Homo sapiens: one gene and its partners. The protein of the gene in region 1 purifies or fractionates together with the protein of each later gene. This does not show direct contact. Each region holds a gene or a part of one and is shown on either strand. Other genes may lie near its edges. The genes, in order: TUBA1C, RCN1, CCT6B, HDAC6, TTC5, BAG2 and CCT6A.

What was found.
Region 2: the proteins of TUBA1C (region 1) and RCN1 purify together in Homo sapiens (affinity purification with mass spectrometry; one large-scale study listed by BioGRID and IntAct). This does not show direct contact.
Region 3: the proteins of TUBA1C (region 1) and CCT6B purify together in Homo sapiens (affinity purification with mass spectrometry; 2 studies listed by BioGRID and IntAct, with this or other methods). This does not show direct contact.
Region 4: the proteins of TUBA1C (region 1) and HDAC6 purify together in Homo sapiens (affinity purification with western blotting; 2 studies listed by BioGRID, with this or other methods). This does not show direct contact.
Region 5: the proteins of TUBA1C (region 1) and TTC5 purify together in Homo sapiens (affinity purification with mass spectrometry; 2 studies listed by BioGRID and IntAct, with this or other methods). This does not show direct contact.
Region 6: the proteins of TUBA1C (region 1) and BAG2 purify together in Homo sapiens (affinity purification with mass spectrometry; 2 studies listed by BioGRID and IntAct, with this or other methods). This does not show direct contact.
Region 7: the proteins of TUBA1C (region 1) and CCT6A purify together in Homo sapiens (affinity purification with mass spectrometry; 3 studies listed by BioGRID and IntAct, with this or other methods). This does not show direct contact.

Annotation. Positions count from the first base shown.
Region 1 is NC_000012.12:49,267,675-49,272,322, forward strand, and holds part of TUBA1C (tubulin alpha-1C chain), read left to right. Parts: intron 1-1,790; coding exon 1,791-2,013; intron 2,014-2,153; coding exon 2,154-2,302; intron 2,303-4,578; coding exon 4,579-4,648. UniProt on the Homo sapiens protein: Tubulin is the major constituent of microtubules, a cylinder consisting of laterally associated linear protofilaments composed of alpha- and beta-tubulin heterodimers.
Region 2 is NC_000011.10:32,093,453-32,098,100, forward strand, and holds part of RCN1 (reticulocalbin-1 precursor), read left to right. Parts: intron 1-3,691; coding exon 3,692-3,885; intron 3,886-4,648. UniProt on the Homo sapiens protein: May regulate calcium-dependent activities in the endoplasmic reticulum lumen or post-ER compartment.
Region 3 is NC_000017.11:34,926,732-34,930,979, reverse strand, and holds the end of CCT6B (T-complex protein 1 subunit zeta-2), read left to right. Parts: coding exon 1-31; intron 32-1,945; coding exon 1,946-2,018; intron 2,019-2,862; coding exon 2,863-2,932; 3' UTR 2,933-3,119; downstream 3,120-4,248. UniProt on the Homo sapiens protein: Component of the chaperonin-containing T-complex (TRiC), a molecular chaperone complex that assists the folding of proteins upon ATP hydrolysis.
Region 4 is NC_000023.11:48,817,919-48,822,271, reverse strand, and holds part of HDAC6 (protein deacetylase HDAC6), read right to left. Parts: intron 4,232-4,353; coding exon 4,163-4,231; intron 4,053-4,162; coding exon 3,860-4,052; intron 2,167-3,859; coding exon 2,017-2,166; intron 88-2,016; exon of another isoform or gene 9-87; intron 1-8.
Region 5 is NC_000014.9:20,285,270-20,289,642, reverse strand, and holds the end of TTC5 (tetratricopeptide repeat protein 5), read left to right. Parts: coding exon 1-16; 3' UTR 17-3,416; downstream 3,417-4,373. UniProt on the Homo sapiens protein: Cofactor involved in the regulation of various cellular mechanisms such as actin regulation, autophagy, chromatin regulation and DNA repair.
Region 6 is NC_000006.12:57,178,151-57,182,798, reverse strand, and holds part of BAG2 (BAG family molecular chaperone regulator 2), read right to left. Parts: intron 768-4,648; coding exon 658-767; intron 1-657. UniProt on the Homo sapiens protein: Co-chaperone for HSP70 and HSC70 chaperone proteins. Acts as a nucleotide-exchange factor (NEF) promoting the release of ADP from the HSP70 and HSC70 proteins thereby triggering client/substrate protein release.
Region 7 is NC_000007.14:56,058,265-56,061,764, forward strand, and holds part of CCT6A (T-complex protein 1 subunit zeta), read left to right. Parts: intron 1-97; coding exon 98-257; intron 258-355; coding exon 356-438; intron 439-1,279; coding exon 1,280-1,376; intron 1,377-2,004; coding exon 2,005-2,152; intron 2,153-2,205; exon of another isoform or gene 2,206-2,338; intron 2,339-2,542; coding exon 2,543-2,676; intron 2,677-3,482; coding exon 3,483-3,500. UniProt on the Homo sapiens protein: Component of the chaperonin-containing T-complex (TRiC), a molecular chaperone complex that assists the folding of actin, tubulin and other proteins upon ATP hydrolysis.

The DNA of each region.
Region 1 (4,648 bases):
GGGCTAATTAGAACAAACTACTCCTGTTCTCCCACACCCCTGGAGCTGGGTGAGTAGACCCAGGTGATACTGAGCTTGCTGATGTGGTTAAGAGACCTTGATTGTTTCATGGGGAGTGTAGGTGGGAAGGAGGTCAAAGGTTGTGAGTAATTAGGGTTTTTATTATCTCTTGGCTTATGAGACCAGGTCCTTTGAGAACTTAGTGCTCTGCCAGTCTCCAAAGTGGCTAATCTGACTTATGATGAAATGCCAAACACCCTTTTTGTTTTCCTGTTAAGTCTGTGTGTACAGATTCTATGTTTATTCCCTTATTTTACTTAGCAGGTGTGGGTTTGGTAATTTCTAACCATATTCTGCTTTGGCCCCTCTGGCCTTTCTAAATTAACTTGGTCCACCTCATAAATATATATCTATGAGAGAGAGACACACACACACAGACACAGACACAGAGTCTTGCCTCTGTTGCCCAGGCTGGAGTGCAGTGGCGAGATCTCTGCAACCGCCACCTCCTGGGTTTGGGTTCAAGTGATTCTCATGCCTCAGTCTTCCGAGTAGCTGGGACTACAGGCGCGCACCACCATGCCTGGCTAATTCTTGTATTTTTAGTAGAGATGGGGTTTCAGCATATTGGCCAGGCTGTTCTTGAACTCCTGACCTCAGATGATCCACCCACCTCGGTCTCCCAAAGTCCTGGGATTACAGGCATGAGCCACTGTGCTCTACCATAATTTTTTTTTTTTTTGTATTTTTAATAGAGACAGTTTCACCATGTTGGCCAGGCTGATTTCAAACTCCTGACCTCAAGTGATCTGCTCACCTTGGCCTCCCAAAGTGCTGGGATTACAGGTGTGAGCCAGAAACAACTAATTTCTTAACCTATCAGTAAAGTCTTGGTAACATTTCTAGCCTTTATTATTATGGTCTTCCCTCTTCCGGAGATGTTTTGACGGTGAAGGAAAAACGTTCTTCCTATAGATTAGATTCTTCCACTTGGTTAAAAAGCTGCCTCTGACCACAGTTTTTAAAATACAGCTAACTGCTGCTTATCCAGCATTTTCTTCATGAGTCATGGCTATAGTTTGCTGGTTTAAGCTGGTTTTAAAGGAGGGAGAGAGAAGCTTTTGTCTCCTAAAGAATAGGATTAAAGCGGGACCAGAATGAGCTCAGTAGTTACACAATCATTCAGAGAATGAATCAGAGCTGGAAAGGGGAATTTTGCCTTAGTTTAAGGAATCATATCTACTGTGGCTACAAAGCAACTGTCTGGTCTTGCCGAGTAGTTCATGAACACATCTTTGGTTTTCCAAGGCACTTTTGCTGAATTAGGTCTTCAAAGATTTTTGCTTTTGAAATTATAGTCCCTGAGCAGGAGTGGCCTGCTGAAAGATGGTTATCTTTTTTTGTTTGAGATGGAATATCTTGTCACTCAGGCTGGAGGGCAGTGGTGTGATCTCAGCTCACTGCAACCTCCACCTCCTGAGTTCAAGTGATTCTCCTCCCTCAGCCTCCCAAGTAGCTGGGACTACAGGTGTGCGCCATCATGCCTGGCTAATTTTTTTTGTATTTTTAGTAGAGATGCAGTTTTGCCATGTTGGCCAAGCAGATCTCAAACTCCTGACCTCAGGTGATCCACCTGCCTCAGCCTCCCAAAGTACTGGGATTACAGGTGTGAGTCACTGCGCCCAGCCAGTTATCTGTCTTGAAGGTTAATCAGTCATTAGGTGTGAATCATTCCTAAATGTCCCATCTGATGTATTATACCCTGACATTTTCCTTTCTTCCTCCCACAGCGTGAGTGCATCTCCATCCACGTTGGCCAGGCTGGTGTCCAGATTGGCAATGCCTGCTGGGAGCTCTACTGCCTGGAACACGGCATCCAGCCCGATGGCCAGATGCCAAGTGACAAGACCATTGGGGGAGGAGATGATTCCTTCAACACCTTCTTCAGTGAAACGGGTGCTGGCAAGCATGTGCCCCGGGCAGTGTTTGTAGACTTGGAACCCACAGTCATTGGTGAGTTGACCTCAGTAACCCAAGTGAGATCCCAGGGTGCTGGGACAGGAGGTCTGTCCTGGGGGGGCTCCGCTGGTCACTCACCCACTCTCCCTCCCCGCTCCTTGTCCCTCCTCCTCCTCCCCCATCATGTTCTCCAGATGAAGTTCGCACTGGCACTTACCGCCAGCTCTTCCACCCTGAGCAACTCATCACAGGCAAGGAAGATGCTGCCAATAACTATGCCCGAGGGCACTACACCATTGGCAAGGAGATCATTGACCTCGTGTTGGACCGAATTCGCAAGCTGGTAAGTATAGTACTTTAAATAAAGTGGGATGAGAGTTTCTTTTGCAGTTCTGAGACCAAACTACAGAAATCATTCTTTGCAACTAAAATGAGACTATTTGCATTGCAACTAAAATGTATCTGTTCACTAAATTAATTGGATTTCTGAACCAGATGATCTTGGATTTATGGGACAACTATGGGGTAGAAGTAAGTGCTCTTTAGCCTATTTTGCTTCAAGCTGAGACACCCCTTTTGAGGTCATCTTAGTCATACTGAGTGAGTAGGTAGCTGACTTCTACATGTAACTAATTGATCAGAGTCATTTTTTAAAAATCTGGGATGGTTCCTTCATGTCAATACAGAAAGTTCAGAGAACAAGAAGCCAGTGTCACACTGACAAGAAACAGCCAATACTGGAAACTTCCAGTACTGCTGAAAGTGGAGTCGGGAGCTTCCTTATGAAGTGTGCTGTTTGGATCACTTTAATTAAGAGCCTGGCAATCAGATGACTCTTTGCTCCTTAGGCATGTGGGCAGCTTGTAAGTAATTAACCAGAGATCAAGCATGATGGTCTGGGCAGAGTAACTTGTCAAGAAAATCACATTGTATTAAGCCCAGCCATGACTGCTCCATTCTAAAATAGAATAGCCTCATCATTCATGGCTTCATACTTTCTCAGATGTTTACGTAGTCTTCCCAGCAAAACTGGACTGATGTTTCCGATGCTTAAAAACTAAGCTTTAGGCTGGGCACGGTGGCTGACATCTGTAATCCCAGCACTGGGAGGCCAAGGTGGGCGGATCATGAGGTCAGGAGATCGAGACCATCCTGGCTAACATGGTGAAACCCTCTCTACTAAAAATACAAAAAAATTAGCCGGGCGTGGTGGTGGGCGCCTGTAGTCCTAGCTACTAGGGAGGCTGAGGCAGGAGAATGGCGTGAACACGGGAGGCGGAGCTTGCAGTGAGCCGAGATCGTGCCACTGCACTCCAGCCTGGGCGACAGAGTGAGACTCCATCTCAAAAAAACAAACAAACAAAAAAAACCCTAAGCTTTAGTTATAAGCACTGACTTGGAAAATCAGGGACCTGCCTTTAGGACAAATAAACCTAGTAGCTATTTAGGGTTCTGGAACGTGAGGTTTATTGCCTACCAAAACAATTGCATTTGTCCTTGTCATTACTGTGCTCACAGGAGGCTTAACTGGTGTAATTGGTAGGCGAGAGTCTGCCCTGTGCATTGATCTCATGTAGTTGATGGACCCACAGGCTATAAGGGAGCTGAGTAGAGAATGTTCACAAATCTGAGGCCCATCACTTGGAGAAGCAAGAGTTTACAACAGAATACTTTATTTGGAAGGTCAAAATCATTCCTTCGTAAAGTAGCAGTTTGCTAACCAAAATAGCCCAGTTAGGTGGAGGAAATCCCCAACAACCTGAGGTCTCATGGAATTGTGGTTGTGTCACTTTACCCAAAATAAATGGGCTTCTTGGTACCTAGTGTCATATATTGGCTTACTGGGCCAATACTGTGCTTACTGTGCCAAGCACTATGCTGAGTACTTACTTAATTCTCAACCTAAGGTGATTACTATTCTCACTTAATCAGTGGAAGAACTGAGAAATGAATGTGGTCATACAGTAAGGAACTGGTACAGCCGGATCCTGACACAGCCTGACTCCAGTACCAGGGTGTTAGAACTTTGGCTATTCTGTTGTTCCACCTCAGAAAGCAGCTGCCAAATCTTTACAAGACATCCACTGTACCAGGCTGGTGGTCCTGGGCCTGCCCCTTAGGACCTCTCCAACTAAGAAACTGCCCTGTTCTGTGGCCACAGCAAGAGAACCAGAGGCTGCCTTCCCAGTTACCAAAACTTGAGCCCTGTATGCAAGCCCAGGCCTTGTGATTCCTCTGCCTAAGGCAATAGTTCATCTTAAAATAGTCTTAGCAAAGGTTTTTCTGCTCAAGGACTTGATTGTGAAAAGTTGTTCTGAATCACTTAGCACTTAAAAGCTTTTTTTTTTTTTTGGAGACAGGGTCTGCTCTGTCATCCAGGCTGGAGTGCAGTGGCCTGATCATCAGTCTTGAACCCCTGGGCTCAAATGCAAATGGTCCTCCCACCTTGGACCCCCAAAGTGTTGATTACAGGCGTGAGCCACTGCGCCTGGCCCAGAAGAGTTTTAAAATTGCAATTGGAGTAGCCATAGATTTATAGAAGTCCTCTGTAGGTTTCACCAAATGTGAACACTAAATGAAACTTTCGCAACACTAAAATGAAACTTTTTTATTTTGCAGGCTGACCAGTGCACCGGTCTTCAGGGCTTCTTGGTTTTCCACAGCTTTGGTGGGGGAACTGGTTCTGGGT
Region 2 (4,648 bases), on another chromosome or scaffold:
CTACTGTGAGCACATTCAGGAGAAGGAGCCGCCAAGGCTGCAGGTTAGAGAGAGGGGATTGGGGCTGTCACCTGATCAGAGTTTGTAGGATGACTTGGAGGTTGCCAGGTGTACAGCAGGGGAAGGCCTTCCTGAAGAGAAAACAGCCCATTTCTAAAGGGTTTGAAAAGCGTTCTGGGGCATGAGGGGTGGTGAGTCTGCAAAGGGGCAGGGAAGGGAAGTGAGAGGTGAGAATGGAGGGGAAACCAAGGGCAGAGCAGGAAGGACCTTGGTGAGATGGACATGAGATGTTATCCTGTACATTGTCAAAATGTCATAATCCCCAAAACTCATTGGGAAAGTCAGGCTGGCAGGAGGGCAGTACACAGAGAACATAATCAAGGCACAGACTAGACCAGTGGCAGGGAGAGGAGGTGAATGCCAAAGGGGCTTGGTCTCTCCGGATTCCAGGAGGGGATGAATCTAGACACCAGTGGGAGGCAGAACTGGCAGCTCTTGCTCTTGACTCAATGAGGGGGAGAAGAGAGAGGTAGGAATCAAGGGGACATCCGGGTCTCTGGCCTTAGCCACCAGATGGGTGATGGATGCACCATTCACTTGTAGGTTAAATGTGGGGTAGAGGCGGGGTAGGAGGTGCTGGAAATTATGGGTCCTGTTTGGGATGGGGCTGAGTGTGAGAAGCTGCCCCTCTGTCCAAAGCTTCTGTTTCAGTGGTCCCCTCCAAGATTGGGCTGAGGAGGAATGAGTGTGGCTGGATCTAGGCAACTTTGTCACCATCACCTGTCAGTCCTGAAAATGTGACAGCTCTAAGGCCCCTAAAGACACCTGGACCAGAGGTTGCAAAGTGGGAACCCGTAGGCTGCATGCATTCATAAATATGCGACACAGTGTAAATTACTTGCCCACGTTTAAAGTTTGAATGGTTTCACATACAGACCCCCATATCTGGCTTCTCTTGACACCTTTATTCCCATGTGTCAGTCATCGTCTGCAGCAGAGTCGGCCAGCCCTATTTGGCGGCTAGCAGGGTACCTCCAAGTGGCCATAGGTCCCATCAAAAGGTTTTGCTCATTCTGTTACCTGTTGGTGTTGAGAACAAATGATGATGGAGTTGGTCTGGGTTTGCTCCTTGCATCAACACCTTAACTTCATTCATTTATTCATGCAACAAACACCCGAATGGCTACTGTGTAGCAGCTACCATCAGCCACTGATCTAGATTATTGTCTTTAGTGAGGAAAAGCATGCATTCTCTCCTTTATTCCTCACAACATTCCTTGTGAAGTAGGTGTTCAGTTTACAGATGGGGAAACTCAGAGAGTCAAGACACTTGCCCAAGATCACGCAGATAATGGGGACCAGAGGCAGGACGGGGATCCAGGTGTTCTGATGAAAGTGCTAGGCTTCATCTCCATCCTAGCTGCCTTTCCCAGGATCTCCCTTGACATTGTTAAAGAGAAGGTTAAGATCTTATTTATTCTTACAACAAATATTTATTGAGTCCCTAATATTTGTCAGGCTGAGCTATGTCCTAGATGTTTATTTGGCATAGATTAGATGCTGTCCTTTCCACAAAAGAGGATTGTAGAGTCTGATGTCATTACCCTGAGATTATGTTTCCCAGTTGGCGTTGGGTAACCCACTGGCATGTCTCCACTGTGTCCCCAGGATCAGAGCAGTGCTTGGCACATAACTGGGCTCAACACTGCACAATGTTAAAAGAATTCTGCTGTGTCTGGCTATGATTTCCTGGGGGAAGAAGCCTGAAGACACTTGAAGTTTCATGTTTTAGTCTTTTTTTTTTTTTTTAAAGACAGGGTCTTGATTTGTTGCCCAGGCTTGTTTACAGTGGTACAGTCATAGCTCACACTGCAGCCTCGACCTCCTGGGCTCAGGCAATCCTCCCACCTCAGCCTCCTGAGTAGCTGGAGCTACAGGCATGCATCACCATTCCTGGCTAATTTTTTTATTTTGAGACGGAGTCTTGCCCTGTCGCCCAGGCTGGAGTGCAGTGGCGTGATCTCGGCTCACTGCAAGCTCAGCTTCCCAGGTTCACGCCATTCTCCTGCTTCAGCCTCCCGAGTAGCTGGGACTACAGGCACCCGCCACCACACCTGGCTAATTTTTTTGTATTTTTAGTAGAGACGGGGTTTCACCGTGTTAGCCAGGATGGTCTGGATCTCCTGACCTCATGATCCACCTGCCTCGGCCTCCCAAAGTTCTGGGACCACAGGCGTGAGCCACCATGCCCGGCCATTCCTGGCTAATTTTTAAATTTTTTGTAGAGTCAGGATCTCACTATGTTGCCCAGGCTACTCTCAAACTCTTGGCCTCCTACCTCAGTCCTCCCACCTCAGCCTCCTGAAGCACTGGGATCACAGATCCAGCCTATCTTTTAGGATTGAGACCTGTTAAACTTGCAAATGAAGGGGTACTTTCAAGCTGTTGGTGATGTTTACACCTTCCTGAGAAAGAGGAGCTTGGGTTCTTGGGTTCAGGTAGGAGGTGGAGACATTGATTATTCACTCCTCCCCTTCTCGTGTACACCCTCCCCCACCTAAAAAAAAGTTATAGGAGATTTTCTCTGTCAAACTATCAAACTGATGAATTTGTTTCCCATTTTTTATTAATTAAAGATTAATTGCCACTCAGAATGTCTGTTGACAAGAAAGTTTTACCACTGAAGCTGTTAGAATTCCAGCCCAAAACAAAGAAAGAAATCTAGAGTTAGCCTGTATGACCTCCTCCCAGATAAATGGACTACAAGGGTGAAACTTTTTTAAACACTGGGGATAGCTTGGAGGTGTTTTTGAAGTTCCCCACTGGGATGCTGTCCTGGTTTGGGACCATCTGGTCTAGAGATGACAAAAGTGGGTTCCCAGCCTGAAGTTTGCTCTGGGCTAGCATTTAGGGTACCTCAGTGGAGTTCAGTGGGAAATTTGTGAAACCTAGGCCAGCTGTGGAGCTGGTATAGGAGTCTTTACCCTAAGAGCAGAGGGTTTAAGGTTCCTAGAGCGGATCAGCTGGTCAAGTTTTGTGAATAGATTCTATGATGTCAAGGCTCCTTCAGCCCTGACATTTGTGCTGTGTCCACCATCTGGTGTCTTCTTGCTTTACGTTTCAAGTCTTTGTATCCATGGTGGTGGGATTTAAAAAAAAAAATCACTTATCTTTTGATTTACATACAGTTTCCACTTTTTGCCTTGGACCTAAGCCAGAAGACATGAGTTCTCACCCCAGTTTTACCAAATACTGGCTGTGTAATCTTAGAAGTTATTCCATTTCTCTGGGCCTCAGTTTCCGTTACTCCAAAATGAGGGTGCTGGACTACAGCAGGGAAGATTAATAGGTTTCATCTTACAGATCAGCTCTGATCCGTTGATAATGGCCATCACCAGAGCACAGTGCTGAGAATTCTGAGAGCACCTCTAGGTTTATCAGGACAGAGGGGCACGATCCATTAGCAGTGTCTGCCATCAGCACTGGTTGGGGGAAAGCACATCAACCTTGGAAGGATAAACTTGAAGATTCCTTCCAGCCTCCTTGGATCATTGATTCTGTTGTAGTTGTATGTGCATTTTGGATTGTGCAGGTGTTTGATCTTTTGCTGGACCAGCATCACACAAGCCTTGATAATATAACAGCCTTGTGCCTGTGTGTGGGTTTCTTTTTTTTTTTTTTTGTACTGCAGGAAGATTGTTGATCGAATCGACAATGATGGGGATGGCTTTGTCACTACTGAGGAGCTGAAAACCTGGATCAAACGGGTGCAGAAAAGATACATCTTTGATAATGTCGCCAAAGTCTGGAAGGATTATGATAGGGACAAGGATGATAAAATTTCCTGGGAAGAATACAAACAAGCCACCTATGGTTACTACCTAGGTAAGAGGTGCTGCAGGAGCGATGACACAGTGGGGGCCCAGATCACAAGCTTTTTGTAGACTCTCTCTTCTCTTATCATATCCACTCCCTTCAGGGAGATGTCACAGCCTCCTAAGTAGAACCTGCTTGTATAACACCCTCCTCTGTAAACTCAGAATGTACTGAGTTGCTTACACTGAATGAAGTTACAGGTGGGAGGGAAGGGCTGTGAGGGCTAATAAAAAAAATCCCTTAGATTGAGACCCCATCTCAACTTCGTCTCAGATGCACACACGGAGAAGAAAGCAGAAAGGAAGTGTGTCTGTGGTATATTTTCAAAATGCTGCCTAATTCTGGATAGCAAGGATTGAGTGGGCCGGAGCAGTCAGGGAAGGCTTCCTGGTGTGGGTGGTTTGGAAACTGGAGCCTTGGAGAATGGATTTATATTTGGAGAAGGTGGGTCAACTGGAGGGGCAAAGATGCAGCAATGCATGCAGTAATGGGAAGGGTTTAGATCCAAGACAAACAAGATCGGGAGAAGGAAGGAGAAATGAGATTACAGAGGCACGGGGTGCAGACCTGCTGGGTGCATGGTGAGGTTGGCAAAGAAACAGGCCCAAGGAGAACCAAAGATGCACTCACGCGGCCAGAATCGGGGAGATCTTGAAAGCCAGGCACGGCGTTGAGACAAGATGTTTTGGGTACCAAAGAGCCTCTGTATGTTCCAGATCTAAGAATGAGATGATGAAAGTAGAGTTCTGCAAAGAGAAGTATGGCAGTAATA
Region 3 (4,248 bases), on another chromosome or scaffold:
AAACAACTTGTGGGCGTAGATTTGAATACAGGTAAGAAAGTGAAGGAAAATTAGCTGCTTAATAAAGAGGTTATTCTTTAGTTACCCAGATCTTATGGTAAAGGAGTAGAGGTTTGGGTAACTTTAATATTTAAATTTTGGATGCCTTTAGTTTATTTTTGAGCTTCTTAAAAAATGTTCATTCATTTAAGAAATAGTTATTGAGTGCTTGTTTTCCTCTTGGGCTTCACACAGAACAAAACAGACAAAAATATCTGCCCCTGGGAGCTTATGTTGTAGTGGGAGAAGGTAGGCAGTAAATAATAACTTTAATAAATAAACTCCTTCAGCATTTTAGAAAAAGTAATGAATTATATGGAAAAAAGAGTGCTATAATAATGATCATGAATGCTAGTACAGGAGGGTGGAGAGAGAATGACAGCTTAAAGGGTTGGTCAGGGTAGGCATCATCTAGATGTCTGTTGAAAAAAAGTGGAAGGAAGTGAGGAAATTAGCCATGTAGGCAACTGGGGTTAAGTGTTCTAGGGAAAGAGAACAGCCAGTGGAAAAGCCAGTGTCTGATGTTTCTGAGGAAGGAGGTGAGAGAGGTGACAGAAGGTCAGATCATGCAGGGGCATTTGGACCAGTCTCAGGACTTTGGCTTTTACTTTAGAGGAGCAGGGAGCAATTTTGAGCAGAGGTGTGACATGGCCTAATTAATTAATTTATGAGACAGTCTCGTTCTATCACCCATGCTGTGGAGTGCAGTGGCACGATCTTGGCTCACTGCAACCTCTGCCTCCCAGGTTCAAGCAATTCTCCTGCCTCAGCCTCCGGAGTAGCTGGGAATATAGGTGTCTGCTGCCACGCCCGGCTAATTTTTGTATTTTTAGTAGAGACAGGGTTTCACCATGTTGGCCAGGCATGTGGCCTAATTATGTTTAAGAGAATCACTCTGGCCACTCTCCACTTTGTAGAGAAGTCAACTGAACAAGTAGAAGGTTGGAGTTGCAATCAACTGTGGTGGAGAATACTGGCTGGAGCAGGTTGTGGGTGAGAGGACATCAGCATTCAGTTTTGGCAGAGTCAAAGTTGAAGCATCTGTAATCTTTTAATTAAAAAAGTTGGATATATGGGTCTGGAGTTCAAGGAAGAGGTCTGGGTTGGAGATTAAAACCTGAGAGTCAGGCCAGGCGCAGTGGCTCACGCCTGTAATCCCAGCACTCTGGGAGGCCAAGGTAGGTGAATCACTAAAGGTCAAGGGTTCAAGACCAGCCTGGCCAACATGGTGAAACCCCATCTCTACTAAAAATGCAAAAATTAGCCGGGGATGGTGGCAGGCCCCTATAATCCCAGCTACTTGGGAGGCTGAGTCAGGAGAATTGCTTGAACCCAGGAGGTGGAGGTTGCAGGGAGCCGAGATGGCACCACTGCACTCCAGCCTGAGTGACAGAGCAAGATCTCTGTCTCAAAAACAAAAACAAAAAACACCAAAAAAAAAAAAAAAAAGAAAGAAAACAAAAAACAAAAACACCCAAAAAACCTTGAGAGTCATCAGATGTGTATGGTTTAAATCTAAAAGTCTGGATGAGATCACCTAGGGATTAAGGGTAGAGAGAAAAGAGGCTGGGACTGAACTTTTGGGTACTCCAACGTTAAGAGGTCAGGGAGGAAGAGGAAGAAGCAGCAAAGTAATCAGAAAAGGAGCCACTAATGCAAAAGAAAGAAAACCAGAAGAGTGTGGTATCCTGGAAGATAACATAGAGTAGGCGGCAGAATGTGATCAACTGTGTTAAATACTGGTAGATGAGGTCTGAGAATCAACCATTGGATTTAACAATATGGAGGTCATTGATGACCTTGACAAAAGTAGTTTTGGTAATGTATTAAATATTTTTAGAAGATATCAATTAATATTAATAGCAAATACTAAGATTTTGGTATGAAAATTGTTTTTACTTTTCAGGTGAGCCAATGGTAGCAGCAGATGCAGGAGTTTGGGATAATTATTGTGTAAAAAAACAACTTCTTCACTCTTGGTAAGTTCATATGAACATAAAGTGAAAGACCTGTAGAGTTATAATTGATAATATTAAGATGAAATTTTTTCTATTATTTTTGTCCCTGTACAGTGGAAAAATTGTCAAGTGTATGAAAGGTGTGGTATTCAGTTATTAGAACTAGCTTCTGTCATTTTATAGTCCATAGTCCCTTTTATATTTTAGATCTAGCAGTGTTAAGTTCTAAGAAAAATTAACCTTACTATTTGAGGGGGAAAGAAAAGGGGAAATTTACTGAAATAATAGCACATGCATGATGGAGAAAATCAAATGATATTGTAAAAATAAGCTCAATTTTGCTGAAATATAAATCAGGAATGCACTTTATCAGCAAAGGAGTTTAAATTATAATACAAAGGGTGACATTTGGGCCAGTGCGGTGGCTCACACCCGTAATCCCAGCACTTTGGGAGGCCGAGGCGGGTGAATCACCTAAGGTCAGGAGTTCGAGACCAGCCTGGCAAACATGGTGAAACCCTGTCTCTACTAAAAATACAAAAATTAGCCAGGCGTGTTGGTGGGTGCCTGTTATCCCAGCTACTCGGGAGGCTGAGGCGGGAGAATTGCTTGAACCTGGGAGGCAGAAGTTGCAGTAAGCTGAGGTCTTGCCATTGCACTTCAGCCTGGGCAACAAGAGTGAAACTCCATCTTGGGAAAAAAAAAAAAGGTGACATTTGTATTTGTATTTATAATAGCCTTGTCTCATAAAACATCATACTAACATCATTAAAGAACAAAGTACCCTACATAGGTAAAGATTGCTGGGGAAAAAAGCTAAGAGTGGGTTAGTAGGCTTTACTCACCCTCTCATCTTTTTCCTTAGCACAGTGATTGCCACCAACATTCTCCTGGTTGATGAAATTATGCGAGCTGGGATGTCTTCTCTCAAATGATGATTGAATTCAAAATCAACCCTTCTAGAAGATGAAATTTAGTACACTTTACATCTGACTACTATTGTGTAGCCTGAGCCATTCTGAATTTCTACACAATAAATGCAGTTTATGTCTTTTGGGTCTTAATAGTCTCAAAAATATTTCATCAAGGTATAAAGAACACAATAAATACTTTTACAGTAAAGGAATAATATTTAAATATTTCCCCAAGAGTCCTAACTCCCCACTCTTTGTTATATGCTATTGCAGTTTTTATAGCATAGGATCTTTATGATACTTAGACCTTTTGACAAGTTTTAATTAACAAAATAGAGGTTTTAGTACACCCAAGTAAATTTCCAATTTATCAGAGGGTATAAATATAGTAGGACAGAATGTTTCATTTTCTCTCAAAATTCTTTCAGTGACTTTTTGCTGCCACTCTTTCCTCTTATAAATATGGCGTGTAGCTTTGGGTTGCATTGTTTATAATATCTGACTCAATTTATTTTGTATATCATTTATTATATTTTATCTGGCTGTTTTTGTATGTATGATCAACAATTTATGCCACTGTGCTAGCTCTGGTAGCTCTCTGTCTAGATGGTGAGATAGAACAGGTCTCATCTGGAAAGAGAATTATTGACACCAATGGTGGGAAATAATTATTTTTGGCTTATAATACAACTGTTCAGTATAGATATTATAGCAATATCTTTCTTGTTTGAAACTCTAGAATTAATCTATTATGCTTTTTATTTTTATTAGAGTTCTTGTGGTTAACTTCTTTCCGTGGATGGTAGTTGATAAGAGACTAAAATATGGCAGGTGCATTAATGGAACTTTGGCCTGTTTGTGCATATAGGAGAAGGTTCCTTTAACCCTATAATTTTATAGCCTGTTTTTTCCACTTAATATGCTGTCAGCATCTTTCTAAGGCAGTATCCAGACTTCTTCTTCTTCTTTTTTTTTTTTTTTTTTTTTTTGAGATGGAGTCTCACTCTTCACCCAGGCTGGAGTGCAGTCATGATCTCGGCTCATTGCAACCTTTGCCTCCCAGGCTCAAGTGACTCTCCTGCCTTATCCTCCTTAGTAGCTGAGATTACAGGTGCACACCACCACGCCTGACTAATTTTTGTATTTTTAGTTGAGAAGGGGTTTCACTATGTTGACTAGGCAGATCTCAATCTCCTGACTTTCGGTGATCTGCCTGCCTTGGCCTCCCAAAGTACTCAGGTTACAGGCATGAGCCAGCACACCTGGCCTAGTATTCAGACTTCTGAACCATCACTTATTTATGGTTACATAGCATTGCATTGTATGGTTATACCACA
Region 4 (4,353 bases), on another chromosome or scaffold:
GAACTTGCCTTCATGCCATACAGAAATCCGTCTTCACACTGTCCAGGAACCCCTGGCCTCACATCATACAGTAACCACTGACCTGACCTGCACAAGACGACTGCTGTGAACCCATACAAAAGCCCCTGCCCTGACCTAGTACAGGAACAACTGGACTCTTTCTCCACATGGACTCCTGTATTGACTTTTTTTACACTCTACAGGAATCCCAGTTGCTATTCTTTTTACAGATAAAGAAACTGAGGCTCAGAGTGGTTAGATGACTTGTCCGAGGTCATAACAGCTGAAGAGGCAGCACTGGGGTTTGAACTTGGGCTCTCTGATGGAGTCATCTGTGTTCTTAACTCCCACCGTGTCCTGTCACAAGCAGTACTGGGCACATAGTAAGTGCGACTTTTTGCAAGCCAATTAATTTCTCAGTGACTTATTTTCCTCATCTGTAAAGTGGTGAAAATAACAGCACAGGCTGGGCGCGGTGGCTCACCCCTATAATCCCAGCACTTTGGGAGGCCGAGGCGGGAAGGTTACCTGAGGTCAGGAGTTTGAGGCCAGCCTGGCCAACATGGTGAAACCCCCGTCTCTACTAAAAATACAAAAATTAGCCAGGCGTGGTGGCATGCGCCTGTAGTCCCAGCTACTCGGGAGGCTGAGGCATGAGAATTGCTTGCTCGAGCCTGGGAGATAGAGGCTGCAGTGAGCCGAGATAGCGCCATTGCACTCCAGCCTGGGTGACACGGCGAGACTCTGTCTCAAAAGGAAAAAAAAAAAAAAAAAAAAAAAGAGGCAGGTATGGTAGCTCATGCCTGTAATCCCAACACTTTGGGAGGCTGAGGCAGGTGGATCACGAGGTCAGGAGTTCAACACCAGCCTGGCCAACATGGTGAAACCCCGTCTCTACTAAAAATACAAAAAAATTAGCTGGGTGTGGTGGCAGGCACCTGTAATCCTAGCTACTCAGGAGGCTGAGGCAGAGAACTGCTTGAACCCAGTGAGCCACAATCGCACCACTGCACTCTAGCCTGGGCGACAGAGCAAGACAACGTCTCAAAAAAAAAAAGAAAAAGAAAAAGAAAATAAGAGCACAGAAGGTTGCTGAGTGGGTTAATATCTGAACAACGCATAACAGTAACCAGGGGCCAGGTGCGGTGGCTCATGCCTGTAATTCCAGCACTCTGGGAGGCTAAGGTGGGTGGATTTCTTGAGGCCAGGAGCTCAAGACCAGCCTGACCAACATGGTGAAACCCCATCTCTACTAAAAATACAAAAATTAGCTGGGCGTGGTGGCGGGTGCCTGTAATCCCAGCGACTCAGGAGGCTGAGGTGGGAGGATCACTTGAAGCCGGGAGGTGGAGGCTGCAGTGAGCTGAGATCATGCCACTGCAGACTAGCCTGGGTGACAGAGCGAGACTCTTGTCTCACAAACAACAACAACAACAACAACAACAAAAAACCAGATCCAAAAGATCCAGCATTTACCATATGCCAGGCATTCCTCCATGATTAGCCTGCCTCATAAAGATGAGGAAACTGAGGCACAGGGCGTGGGGATACTGAGTCATTTACAAAGGTCAGTGAATTTCCTTTGTCCCAGGAACTTGTTAGAGGCAGTTCAGGTAGAGTAAAAAGCACAAACCCTGGAGCCAGGCTGCATGGGTTCAAGTCCTGGTTCTGCCATCAGTAAATGTGCCATCTCAGGCTAGTCATCACACCTCTTTGTGCCTCAGTTTCCCTGATCTTCAGAGAGGAAAATGAGGTAAGCTTACCCTACCTCATAAGGCTGCTTTGCCAAGTAACTGAATGAATAAGACACATGAGGTGCTCAGAAGAGTGCTCTGCACATAGTGAGCACTCAATTAAGGCTGTTAATGTTGCTGTTATTCTTATTACTACCCAGTATGTGCCAACAATCCCAGGCAGGGACACTCAAAGGAGATTTCAGGAAACTGTCCTGAGTGATGGTGCCAACATTTCCAAACTACCCTCCCACTGTGGGAAGAGGGACCAAGAGAAAGTTACCTCTAGGATAAGGATAATGCGGCCACTGGCAAGGCCCATCAGCAGGTGGGTGAGGTGGGCATAACCCTCAGGTGACACCTGGCAGCCCCCCAGCGGATCCCCCCGTGCAGCATCAAAGCCAGCTGAGACCAGCACCAGTTCTGGGTTAAACTGAGGCAGGGAGAGAAGAGATGTATAAGCATGAGGGTAGGGGCTTTTGGTAGGCAGTAAGTGATGGCGACCCAGAGACATGGAGAAAAGGACAAATGAAGACATGGAGATGCAAGTCAGAGAGATGGAGACACAGAACCTGGAGACTAGGAGACACAAAAGCAGAGACTGAAAATGAAGAAGGGAAGAAAAGAAATACAGACTCAGAGGTAGAAGAAATAGATGCAGACTTAGAGACATGGAGATGGCAGAAAGGGACAGATGGGGGCCGGGCATGGTGGCTCAGGCCTGTAATCCCAGCACTTTGGGAGGCCGAGGCGGGCAGATCATGAGGTCAGATTGAGACCATCCTGGCTAACACAGTGAAACCCTGTCTCTACTAAAAATACAAAAAATTAGCCAGACGTGGTGGCGGGAGCCTGTAGTCCCAGCTACGCAGGAGGCTGAGGCAGGAGAATGGCATGAACCCAGGAGGCGGAGCTGGCAGTGAGCCGAGATTGCACCACTGCACTCTAGCCTGGGTGACAGAGCAAGACTCCATTTCAAAAAAAAAAAAAAAGGGACAGATGGGGACATGAGACAGACTGACACGTCAAGAGAGTGACATGAAAAACAGAGAGACAGAGACATGTCCTCACACACACATACCCCAGGGTCAAACGTGGGACACACATACACAAGATACAGGGTTTTATATACATAGTGCCAAAGAGAGGTGCTTGCACACTTCCAAAACAGAAGATGGCAACGCAAGAACCACATACAGAGAAGATGGTCACACAGAGCCACACGTACTGCCACACAGACAGTACCATATAGATCAGTACTATATATCTGCACTAGTCATGTACACACACACAGTTTCTCAAAGAGGACAATAACCCACAGCCATCCTGCACAGTCACATACACATGCCATCACCACACAGCCACAATGGCGACATGCACTCTGGTATGTCCACAAGAGCTGGTTATTTGCACATACAGTTGTACACACACAGAAGGCTGTCCTGGCTACCCATGCACAGTCAGATGCACATGCAGATCCAAAGATGCACACCGGCGCCCAGGGTGACAGAGCGGTGCTCACACCCTTTCCCTCCCTCCCAGAGTCAGCCATACACAAGCCACCAGCCTCCTAGCTCACACAGAGGGAAGGCAGCTACCTCCCAGTCAGAGACATACACACAAACAGCCAGGGCAGACAGCCAGACAGTGACTGCTGTCACACACAGCCTTCCACATCCAGAAGGTCCCACACAGGCTGTCACAGAGATGGTTGCATTTAGTGACATACAGTATCACACCCATCACACAGAGAAAAGGTGAGAAATACCTGCCTGCACAGAGTCGCACACGCACATACTCAAGCACTTGTGATGGCACGCACATACAACACAGATCCAGCCAGGACACGGGCCATTGGTGCATAGTCAGAAGGCCCTCACACACACAGCCAAGACAGTCACTCACACAGTGTCACACAGAGAAGGCAGTCATGTACAGCCATCTGTGCACAAATACACAAGGTGATCACAGCCACCAACTGCCCTGGTAGCCTCATTAAACACCCATGCGCTGTCTCATATCATCAGCCACATGGTAGTCACACACACACATGCCAAGGAGGCAGGTCCAGGCTGCCACCTGCACAGGCGTGTCACATACGTCCTGCGATCTATCCTGAGCTGTACCTCGTAGGCAATGGGAAGCACCAGGCGATGCCAGGCAGCTAGGTAGTCAGCATCACCCATGCGGGGCCCGTTCCATGCCACGTTGACGGTGAAGCCTGTGCCCGCAGCCCGGCCGATCTGGCTGCTGGCACCCTCATCCCCCATGGGGAAGAAGGTGCCATGATCATAGCGGTGCAGGGACACATATAGCACACTGCCAGGGAGGGGGTGGGAAGCGGACCATGGCTGGTTAGGGGCTCCAGTACCCCTGAGGTGCTCACCCGCCTCCCTGATCACACTGCGGCCCCTGACTGCAGCCCTTACCTGGGGTCATCCTCAAACATGTGCTGAGTTCCATTACCGTGGTGGACATCCCAATCCACAATCAGGATCCTGGGGAGGAGACAGCACCTCAGTAACCGACGATACTCACGCCCTGGAAGAGGGCTGGGCTAGACCCCTGGGGTCTGCAGGGGCATTTAGTGCTGAGTGGCAGGACCCTGGGTCCTATCAGT
Region 5 (4,373 bases), on another chromosome or scaffold:
ACCACAGTGTGAATGACCTTTGACTTGCATGCTCAACAGGGAGTGGAGGAGAGGAGACAAGGCTCTGGACAGCCGGTCCAGCCACATCCAGTGATTCAGCAGGGATGGGAGGAATGTTTTAAATGAAGACTTTCTCTTTCCCTGCCTGTATTACACTTCGTATCTCTTCTCTCTCCTCTGTCCTCATCATGTTCCAGCTCTCTACAGGGCCACATACTCTTCTGGCATATCTCTCCTGTCTCTTCCACTGCTCTCTATGTTTTAAGCAAAGAGCATGGAATTGGTAGAAGTCTTGGGATCTTGCCATGGGACAGAGTCCCCAAGGTTCCTGTTGTTGCCTCCTTCCTAAGCCTCATATGTATATATCAGTTCAGTATTTATTGCTAAAGGAGGGGGCTTAATTTTGTAATGGCTTTTATTTTTAGCAATTTTTATTTTTATTTTTGAACTTTAGGTCCTTCCTCTTCTTTGGGGCTGGAACAGAATTAAATTTGTTTGGAAAAAAAAAAAAACACCACGTAGTTTGGCCTGCTTTATTCTCCCTAGGCCTGTATTCTTTGTTTTAGGATCACTTCAATTTATTGGAGTAATACCCCCATTTTTTTCTTTATACAAAGCAGTTTATTTCTCTCCCAGTTAAAAGAATTCCGACAATAGACAGCCCCAGGCAGGAATGGCAACTCCACAAAGTTGCTAGAGACCAGCTTTCTTCCATTTTCCCATTCTGTCATTCCCTAGGGGTGGTCTTCACTATGGTCCAAGATGACAGAGCAATACTGTTCTAATAGTGTTACTAGGCTGAAGGACCAGAGAGAGTTAGATAAATCCTCAGTTTCTTTAGAGTCTAGTGACATGTTTTATAACAGTTTATCTTAATATCCTTGTGGTAAAATGGAGAAATGTGAGTGAGGATTAATAACCAATTGAATTGGCCTGGCACGGTGGCTCAGCCTGTAATCCCACCACTTTGGGAGTCCAAGGCGGGTGGATCACGAGGTCAGGAGTTCAAGATCAGCCTGGCCAAGATGGTGAAACTCCGTCTCTACTAAAAATACAAAAATTAGCTGGGCGTGGTGGCAGGCACCTGTAATCACAGCTACTGGGGAGGCTGAGGCAGAGAATTGCTTGAACCTGGGAAGTGGAGGTTGCAGTGAGCCGATATCATGCCACTGCACTCCAGCATGGGCGACAGAGCGAGACTCCGTCTCAAACAGCAACAACAACTGAATGGCTGTAATACATTAATGTATACAGATGAATTGAGAAGTCTTCTAGTGAAATGGCTCAGATCTTTGTTCTTGGTCCAGTCCTGTTCAGTTTTTGATCAGTGCCTTGAATATCATTGATGACTCATTAAATTTATAAAGAGTGCAGAGGCCTCCTCAGAGAATGGATGGTAGAAATGCATTGATGAGAGAAGTTTTATCTATCTATCTGTCTATCTATCTATCTATCTATCTGTCTCTATCTAAGAAGTCATAAAGGCTGAGTCTAATAAGATAAAATTTTCAGTCCATTCTTTTGGTCCAAAAAGGCTTACATTCTCAGGTATAGCTTCAACATCATATATGAATATTACTAAGAATCTTAGTAGATAAGCTAAAGTCAGTATGAGTAACCAGTCTGATATAGTTTGCAAGAACACTCTTCATGGACTGCACCAAAAAAACCTATGGTAGCAAGAGACAGTTTTTATTAGAAGTACTGTCTGTTATACCACATATGGAGTCTTAAATTAGTTTTGGGTGTCATTTTGAGGCCTAGAGTCATAGAAGAGTGATTAGGAGCTTGTGGGGTATAAAAATAACTTGAGAATTGGCTGAAAGCAACTAGGGAAGATGGGGGTAGTAGTATGTGTAAACATTTGAGGCAGTAGAGATGTGGGACCCAAATACTGTTCCCCTTTTACTCAAATTCTGAGATGAGTTGACATGTTCTGTGTAGGGCTAGAGAGTAGAAAAATGGCCAGTAGGTGGTAGCCACAGAGAAGCAGTGCGTACAAACAAGTAAGTATGCAAAATTTGTACATACGGTTTCAGGAATAACTAGAATACCCATAAAATATCCACCTGCCTTAAAAACTAGAACATCATTGATAACTTGGAAGCCCTTGCATACCTCTCCATGATCTCATTTGTCTTCACAGCTATATAAATCTCATTGTATGATTATACCATAATTTATTCATCCTGTTGTTAAAGGATATTTGGGTTTCCAGTTTTTCTTTTTTTACTACCAAAGCACTACATTATTAATATTCTTGTATATGTCCTGATATGTAAGTGCAAAAGTTTCTTTTACAGCAATGGCTCTTGAAGAGTGGTTCCCAGACCAGCAGCATCAGCATCCCTTGGAACTTCTTTGAAATGCAAATTCTCAAGCCCCCTACCCAGACTTACTGAATTCAAAACTATGTGGGAGGAGCCCAGCAATCTGTGTTTCGCAAACCCTCCAGGTGACTCTGATGCACAGTAAAATTTGAGAACCACTGTTTAAGAGTATTGACATAGAATGGAATTGCTGGATCATAGAGTATATACATGTTCAACTTTTTTGAGAAGCACTAAACATTTCCAAAGTGCTTATATTAGTTTATGTCTCTACTATCAATAGATGAGTCACCCCAATGCTCCCCATCCTCTTCTGTGCTTGGTATTATCTTTTAGGTATTGCAAATACAGGAGATTTGAGTATTATTTCCTTGTGGCCTTAATTTGCATTTCTGATTATTAATGAGCTTGAGCATCTTTTCATATATTTAGAAGCCACTAATATTTTCTCTCGGTAAAATGCCTATTCGAGTCTTTGCACACTGCTGTATTGGATGTCAAATTGATTTATATATTCCCTGTACTAATCGTTTGTCTACATACAGTTTTATCCTGTTTTTTTTTTTATTCTATTGGGTCTTTTGCTGAACAGAAGTTCTTAATTTCAATGTCATTGAATTTATCCATCTTTTATGATAATGCTTTTTGTGTTTTAAGAGGTTCTTAGCTCTCCTAAAGTCATAAGGACATTTTCCCTCTACTGCTTTATGAAGTTATTTTGTCCTTTTCTTACAGTATGACTTTATTTTATGTTATGTACGGATATAATTTTTTTCATAATGAGTAAATAGCCCAGCACCTTTTATTAAAGAATCAATCCTTTCCCTACTGATCTTTAAAGCCCAGTCTGTCTTTTTCTTTTTTTGAAATTGTCTAGCTTTTTAATTTTTACCAACCAGATGATTATAAAATATCACATAGTAGGCATAAATTACATTTCTTTGTCCATTCCTGTTTCTTTTTCTATGAAATCTCTGTTTTCTTTTGTCCAATTTTTATTGGGTTGTCTTCTTATTGATTCCTTACATGTTCTGGATACTAATCCATTATAAATTATGTTTTTCAAATATATTTATCCAAATCGCAGCTTGCTTTTTCATTTTCTTAATGCTCTCTCTTTTTTTTATTATTATTATACTTTAAGTTTTAGGGTACATGTGCACAACGTGCAGGTTTGTTACATATGTATACATGTGCCATGTTGGTGTGCTGCACCCATTAACTCATCATTTAGCATTAGGTATATCTCCTAATGCTATCCCTCCCCCCTCCCCCCACCCCACAACAGTTCCCCGAGTGTGGTATTCCCCTTCCTGTGTCCATGCGTTCTCATTGTTCAATTCCCACCTATGAGTGAGAAAATGTGGTGTTTGGTTTTTTTGTCCTTGCGATAGTTTGCTGAGAATGATGGTTTCCAGCTTCATCCATGTCCCTACAAAGGACATGAACTCATCATTTTTATGGCTGCATAGTATTCCATGGTGTATATGTGCCACATTTTCTTAATCCAGTCTATCATTGTTGGACATTTGGGTTGGTTCCAAGTCTTTGCTATTGCGAACAGTGCTGCAATAAACATACGTGTGCATGTGTCTTTATAGCAGCATGATTTATAATCCTTTGGGTATATACCCAGTAATGGGATGGCTGGGTCAAATGGTATTTCTAGTTCTAGATCCCTGAGGAATCGCCACACTGACTTCCACAGTGGTTGAACTAGTTTACAGTCCCACCAACAGTGTAAACATGTTCCTATTTCTCCACATCCTCTCCAGCACCTGTTGTTTCCTGACTTTTTAATGATCGCCATTCTAACTGGTGTGAGATGGCATCTCATTGTGGTTTTGATTTGCATTCTCTGATGGCCAGTGATGATGGGCATTTTTTCATGTGTTTTTTGGCTGCATAAATGTCTTCCTTTGAGAAGTGTCTGTTCATATCCTTTGCCCACTTTTTGATGGGGTTGTTTTTTTTTTTCTTGTAAATTTGTTTGAGTTCATTGTAGATTCTGGATATTAGCCCTTTGTCAGATTAGTAGGTTGC
Region 6 (4,648 bases), on another chromosome or scaffold:
CGTGCCTGTAATCCCAGCTACTCGGGAGGCTGAGGCAGGAGAATCGCTTCAACCCAGGAGGCAGAGGTTGCAGTGAGCCAAGATCGCGCCATTGCACTCCAGCCTGGGTGACGAGTAAAACTCCATCTCAAAAAAAGAAAAAAGAAAATGACAGCACATTTTTACATTCATGCCTTTTATTGGTCCTACAAGTTTCCTCATTTTCTCTGCATTTTGTCCCTTCTCTTTATGTTGTACCTCAATTCATCTTTTTTTTTTTTTTTTTTTTGGTCTCTACTTCTCTGCTTCCACTCTCTCACCCTCTTCCTCTGCTTTTTTAATCTCTTGCAGTCCAGTAACTTGTGAGGAACTGAAGTTAGGACTGTGAACCTGGGATAAAACACATGGCCTTACTGCTTGGGGCCAGCTTTTCTGAGCTTGCAGGCTTTTTCCTATCTCTCCTAGCCAGGGGCTTGGGGTAGAGAGCATGCTGGAAGAAATCTCTGAGTAAGTGGCTGCTGTAATGAACTGACAGCTGCAGCTGCTCTCTGTGGCTCACATTAAATGCTGTGGCCTGGTGTACGCATACCAAAAGTCAAGCAAAAATTGACCCACACTTATCATAAACTCTTTAAAGGAGTGTAAAAGATGAGCCCCTTCTGTGGAGATGGCTCTCACCGTCACTGATCTGCCTCATGTCCTGGCTATTTTGGATACTGTGGATCATTTCCAGAAGGATTTCTTTCTCTTGCTCAACAGCAGTTGCTGCTTCTCTCAAAGCTTCAACCCTATAGAAATTGGGAAAACAAAACGGTTATTGTATGCAGGATGTTCTTCCTATTAATTTTCTTTATCTCTCATTCAACCCAAATCAAGTTTAAAGATCACCAAACTTTTCAAAAATTCTTCATTTCTGCTTTAAAATTCTTTCATTTTTCTATACACTTGCCTTTCTCCCATTTTCCTCCCAGCTCATAAGGCAATCATTCTTTCGTGTTTATCTAATTAATACTATTTGTTTTTTACAAGATCTGTATTATTTGTATATTTTGAATTTATATCTCATTCTGTTTTTATTTTTTCACTTAGCATCCAGGTTGCTAGATTTTTGTTTGTTTTTTGTTTTTGAGACAGTCTTGCTTTGTCACCCAGGTTGGAGCACAGTGGCACAATCTCACCGCAGCCTCCACCTCCCGCTTTCAAGTGATTCTCGTGCCTCAGCCTCCAGGCCCGGCTAATTTCTGTAGTTTTAGTAGAGACGGGGTTTCACCATGTTGGCCAGGCTGGTCTCAAACTCCTGGGGTTTCACCATGTTGGCCAGGCTGGTCTCAAACTGCTGGCCTCAAGTGATCTGCCCACCGCAGCCTCCCAAAGTGCTGGGATTACAGGTGTGAGCCACCACACCCAGCCCCCTATGTGTACTTCTAATCAGTTGCTGCTAATTGCTGTATAATACTCCATGTGTATACCTACCTGATTTTCCCTCTCCACTCTCCCAGAGATGGACACTTAGGTTGTCTACCAGCTTCTCATTACTACAAATAACACTTCTATGAATACATCTCCCCTTTGGACCTTGGTGAGGATTTCCTTAGGACATATACCAGGACAGAACTGCTAAGACAAAGGGTATGTGTACTCTGCTTTTGACTTAGTATTATGACTATTCTGCAGAACACCTGTACCTATCCACTCTCCACAGCAAAGCACAGGGGTCCCCATATCCCTACCAACATTCTGCATTTTCCAACTTTCTATTTGCTGCCAGTGTGACAGAAATACACTGATATGTCAGTGTTAACTTGTGTTTTCCTAATAATTTCAGACATCTCTTTGTATCCTTGTTAGCCTATTCATAGACTTTTCCTATTTTGCTTTTCTATTTTTAAACAGGAGTTACTGTTCCCTTGTTGATTTGTATACTCAAGAGATTCTTGTTGGTTACAGACATTGCAACCATCTCTCATCCTCTCATATATGAACCACGTCTGGGATGTCTTGCACTAAAGAGAGACTCTTATTTTGATGCGATCAATTTTTTTTTTTTTTTTGCCTTATGGCGTATGCTTTTGAAGTTTTGACCTAAGGTCTTCCCCCACCCTTTGGTCCTATTTTCCTATATTTTCTCTTATTAACTTTATAGTTCTACCTTCCTTATATTTATGTCTTTAATCCACCTAGCATCAACCCCTGCATGCAGTTAGGTAAGAATGTTTTGTTTTTTTCTTCCAAATAGCCATTTTCCCCAACATTATTTACCAAGCAATCCATCTTTCCCCTAGCGAATGTATATTCGCTATTTATCTCTAAAATCTCTATGCCATGCATTAGTGTATTTAACTGTTCTTATACCAGTGCCAAGTTTTGGGTTTTTTTTTTTAATAGCACTAGCCTTGTACTACACTTTAATATTTGATAGAGCAGGTCCCTCAATCTTCTTTAAAGATAACTTAGCTATTTATGGACTTTTACTTCTCCAACTTTTCCATATAAATTCTAGGGTAAGTTTATTGTGTTTCTCAAAAAACAAGAGAAATTAGACATCTTTATAACATCTCTCTGTTTAAAGGCATGATATATGTCTCTTCATTTATTCAGATCTATAGAGTTCCCATGTATTCTTCATAGTAGTCTTCGTGGATATTGCTGCTATTGTGAATTTGTATTTTCTACTTGATTTTTACTGGTTTGAGAAGTGCTGTTTTTGTAGGTTTATCTTGTCACTGGCAACCTTGATTTACATGTATTCATTTTAGTGTTCAGTCTGTTGATTCTGTTGGTTCTTCTAGGTTAATAATCATATCCATATCATCTGCAGTTTTTATTTCTTCCTTCCCAATCCTATTACTTTTTTTTTTTTAAGAAAAGGTCCTTCAGTACTGTATTAAACAGTGGCAATCATGGGGGTATCTTTGTCTTTTCCCAAATTTAAGGGAAAATCTCTGTGGCTTTTTTGTGTAAAGCCCTGATCAAACTATAGAAGCACTACTTTCCCACTTCACTCAATTGCACACACATGCACTCACACTATACACACACATGAATATACCCAGTCACTAAAAAACTAAGCTGTGGAATAAGGGCAAAATAAAGAAATATATATTGTATATTTAACATGTTCTATACTTCCAGGGAACGTTGTTATTATGAATTACAGTAACTAAGATGCCAACTTTTGCAAAATGAAAGTGACAGACCTATTCCCAGTATTTGGATGGTCTTAGAAATACAAGTTCATGAAAGATCTAATCCTAACTGCTGTCTTAAGTGTGCACAGAAAGAACAACTTCACCAATGTTTTAGCACGTTCAATTCCATAAAAGGATCCTCTCCCTGCCCTAAGCACACACATGCCTTTTCCCCTTCGGTTACCCACCTGTTATACCCCAAAATAGTACTGACAGGCTGTAAAATCACAGGATATCTTTATTCTTCAAGATATTAAATATATGTCAAAGTGTGTTTATAAGAGCCAGTAAAAGCAAAGAACTGGGAAGAATCGCATGTGACAAATTTGGCTAGAGAACACAATCAAAATACAAATATTCTACTAACTAATAGTAATGCAAGTATCAGGCCCTATTCCAGGACCATTCAGTATTTACTTAAACATTTTACATTAGCAATCTCTCAGAAAGATAAACTAGGGCCCAGAACATAGGAAAGAGACGGAGTTGGCACTAAATATTTATGCTAAAAGCACAAACCATGACTCCAATATTTAGACAAATGACACAGGTGAATCATGTGATTGATAAATGAGAAGATGCTGAAAGAAGAGATTAATTTTTCAACACCTTTTCGGTTTGTATTCAATTGTAAGATGATAAGAGAGAACAATGCTATTCTGAAAAGGAAGGTTTCATTTATGAGTTACAGCAGTAAGTTCATGTTCTTAACAAAATAGATAAAAAAGACATTCTAGAAAAAATATAATAAGCCTGTCATATGACGAAAATATTTTATCATTAAATGAGACCAAATAGTTAGGTGGAACTGCTAAAGTTTGTGTTTTAGGGACCCTCCCCCACCCCCATCCCACAAGGCTTTTTTTAATACATAATAGAAATTACCAGGGCATTATCCCTGTGAAAACCAGATTTCATCATTTATAGAACTTCTTATATACATTTTTATGTATACCTTTTTCATTTCATGCAAGGGTAAAATGTCATTCTTCAAAATGTAAAGATCTCAGGGTTTATTTGGCAACATGGGCTTTTCATGTCCTATTCCCTCTTCAGGTAGCATTCTTTCTCCCTGACCCTTGTCTACTGGGATCACCTTTTTCAAAACCCAATTGCTTCAGCAGGAATTGTTTCCTTAGCTTCCCCCTTCCTCTCCCTTAAGGCAATTCATGCTCCTTTTGGCCCTGGTACATCCATTTACTCTACAGTCTAAAATATGTCTACCTCATATTTTACATTTTTTCTTTTAAAAAGCTGAACCTAGATCTCTACTTAGTTTAAGTAACGTTTGTACTGTTTGTCAGCTATTGCTATCCTTAAACTCATATACACGTCTTTTGTCTACAATTTTTCCATTAGTTCTAGAAAATTCTTGGCTGTTGTATCTTTGAATATTCCCTGTCTCCCCTTCTGTTATTTTCGTCTGGAACTCTGGTTAGAGAAATGTTGGACCATCTCACTTTATCCTTCATGTTTCTTAA
Region 7 (3,500 bases), on another chromosome or scaffold:
GAGCTCAGTGAACTGTTAAATCTTAGGACTAATCCAGTTTCAGAAGCTGCTTTCTTAATGTTTCCCTGCTTTCTGTAACTTTTTTTTTTCTTAATAGAGAAGTGAATTCTGGCTTTTTTTACAAGAGTGCAGAAGAGAGAGAAAAACTCGTGAAAGCTGAAAGAAAATTCATTGAAGATAGGGTTAAAAAAATAATAGAACTGAAAAGGAAAGTCTGTGGCGATTCAGATAAAGGATTTGTTGTTATTAATCAAAAGGTGAGAATGAAAACTCAATGTATAAACTAAATAGTACGTATCATCCTTTTTACTTTTAAGGTGAAAGATGTTGAAATTAATTTTTATTTTTGTTACAGGGAATTGACCCCTTTTCCTTAGATGCTCTTTCAAAAGAAGGCATAGTTGCTCTGCGCAGAGCTAAAAGGAGAAATATGGAGAGGTATCCGAGTAATTTGACTTTTACTCATTTTGCAAGTGAATTGGGATTATTTCTTTTTCCTTATACTTTATTTTTGGGTTTTTCAACTGTATAGTTAATTGGCATTAACTATATTCACATTGTGCACCCCGTCAGCACTGTCCATCTCTAGGACTTTTTTCATCATCACAAACTGAAACTGTATACCCATTAAATAGTTACTCCCCATTTCTCCCTCCCCCTTGCCCCTTGTAAACATTATTTTACTTTTTGTTTCTGAATTCAATATACTTTTTTCCAAAGAGCTCCCCACAATAAAAAGCTTTTTTTAAAAATTTTTTATTATTATTTTTTGAGACAGTCTTGCTCTTTCGTGCAGTGGCATGATCTTGGTTCATTGCGACTACCACTTCCTGGGTTCATAGGATTCTCAGCCTCCCGAGTAGTTGGGATTACGGGTGTCTGCCACCATGCCCACTGAATTGCTTTGTGTTTTTTTAGTAGAGATGGGGTTTTGCCATGTTAGCTAGGCTGGTCTCAAACTCCTGGCCTCAAGTGATCCACCCACCTCAACCTCCCAAAGTGTTGGGATTACAGGTGTGAGCCACCATGCCTGGCTAATAAAGAGCTCTTGTCCACCTTTTAGATTTCATTTGCTAACTTGGGGAGAGTGGTTTAAATGGAGGGTTAAGAGAAAAGACTAGTTTTTAGCTGGTTGATGGCAAATGGAAAGGCTTAAAGTACATTTTAAAATTTAATTTTGTGTGTAATTCTGAAAAATTCCTTCCTAAAAATTACTGGTCTTATCTTTGAAATTCACTGGTAACGTTGCTTATCCATCTCCCTTAAAATGCTATTTCAGGCTGACTCTTGCTTGTGGTGGGGTAGCCCTGAATTCTTTTGACGACCTAAGTCCTGACTGCTTGGGACATGCAGGACTTGTATATGAGTATACATTGGTAAGTGTATTTTTTTCTTAAAGGTAATAGAACCTTTTAGCTCGTGAATTATTTTTGTTTGTTTGTTTGAGGTGGGGTCTCACTCCTGCCCGGGCTGGAGTGCAGTGGTGTGATCACAGTTCACTACAGCCTCATCTTCCTGGGTTCAAGTGATCCTCCCGCCTCAGGCTTCTGAGCAGGTGGGACCACAGACGTGTGTGCTACCATGACTGGCTAATTTTTTTTTTTCTTGGTAATTTTTGTAGAAACAGGTTCATAATTGTGTTGCCCAGGCTGGTCTTAAACTCCCGGGCTCAGGCTGTCCTTCACCCTCAGCCTCCCAAAGTGCTGAGATTACAGGCATGAGCCACCGTGCCTGGTTCATGAAGTCTTTAGCAGAAAAATTAATTGAAATTCAGGATCAGATTTTTGTTTATATACATTTTGAAGGTTTATGTGTAGTAATGGGAAGCCATTGATGGGGAAAATCACATTTCTTTTATGTGATTTTTCAAAAGGAGATAATTTGCTTTAATGTGATCAAGTTTGTTCCTTATTAATATGCTACTTGTCATTCTCTGTAAGTCCCTCTTCTCTCTTCACTCTGCACAAATCCTGTTTTTGAAAATCATATTTTTTCTACACATAGGGAGAAGAGAAGTTTACCTTTATTGAGAAATGTAACAACCCTCGTTCTGTCACATTATTGATCAAAGGACCAAATAAGCACACACTCACTCAGATCAAAGATGCAGTGAGGGACGGCTTGAGGGCTGTCAAAAATGCTATTGATGATGGTAAGATCCTCACTGTATTTCAATTCTTTTATATTGTTTTGCTGGTCTGAAAGGCATGGCCGAATACTGTGTTTTTATCAGTAGTTTACACAGCCAGACACCATGCAAAAGCAGTCTTCCCTTTAGAATGACTGATGGTATGCTAAGGTTTTTCATAGCATATCATTATTAAAGGTGAATACAAATAAATGAACTAATACTGATCTGTTGAAAGCTGCCAGTGGCTAGTGAAGCCATTCTGGTTGAACCATTCTCCTATTTGGTATGTTAGTCACTTGTATTTTGTCATAGTAAATTTGTAAGAAATTAATGGCTTTCATATGTATATTTTGTTATTCATAATTAGTTCTGCAGTTTTCTTAGCATTTTTCCTTTTCCCCCATCCAACAGGCTGTGTGGTTCCAGGTGCTGGTGCCGTGGAAGTGGCAATGGCAGAAGCCCTGATTAAACATAAGCCCAGTGTAAAGGGCAGGGCACAGCTTGGAGTCCAAGCATTTGCTGATGCATTGCTCATTATTCCCAAGGTGTGCATGCTTTTAACAGTCAATCTTCCAAAAGATTCAGCTGATCAAACCTTTCTGATAATGTAGGATTTATTCATAAAGTGGATTTTGGATAAGCAAGTTTGATCAGTTTTCTTTCTGACTCTAGAACAGGTATTCCTCATCATCCAGATATATTTGGTTTCTCTGGGAAGCCTGAATAGCTGACATTGCAGATGGCAAGAGATAACCTGTAGTTTAATATTTGCAGTATTAGGGGTTATACTTGAGTACAAACTTGCTTTTTGCTTTTGTTTTAAACTGATATCATTGTTTTCTATTATATACCAGTTTTGATATATAATTTATGACTGGTGTATTGCTGCTGGGTTTGGGGTAGTTGAGAGAGTTGATCAGTAACTTGTGTCTGGTATTCTCTGAAGGGAACATAAATGTTCTGTCTTTATGCAATGAGTTTTTTTTTTTTTTTTTTTTTGAGACAGTTTTGTTCTTGTTTCCCAGGCTGGAGTGTAATGGTGCGATCTCAGCTCACTGCAGCCTCAGCCTCTCGAGTAGCTGGGATTACAGGCACCTGCCACCACACCCGGCCAGGTTTTTTTTTATTTTTAGTAGAGATGGGGTTTCACCATGTTGGCCAGGCTGGTCTCGAACTCCTGACCTCAGGTGATCCACCTTCCACGGCCTCCCAAAGTCCTGGGATTACAGGCGTGAGCCACTGCACCAGGCCGAGATTTTCTTTTTCTTTTTTCTTTTTTTTTTTTTTTTTTTTTTTTTTACTATCAGTTATTAGTTCCTGTTTTCTCAAGAATTAAATTTGTTTACTTTAGGTTCTTGCTCAGAACTCT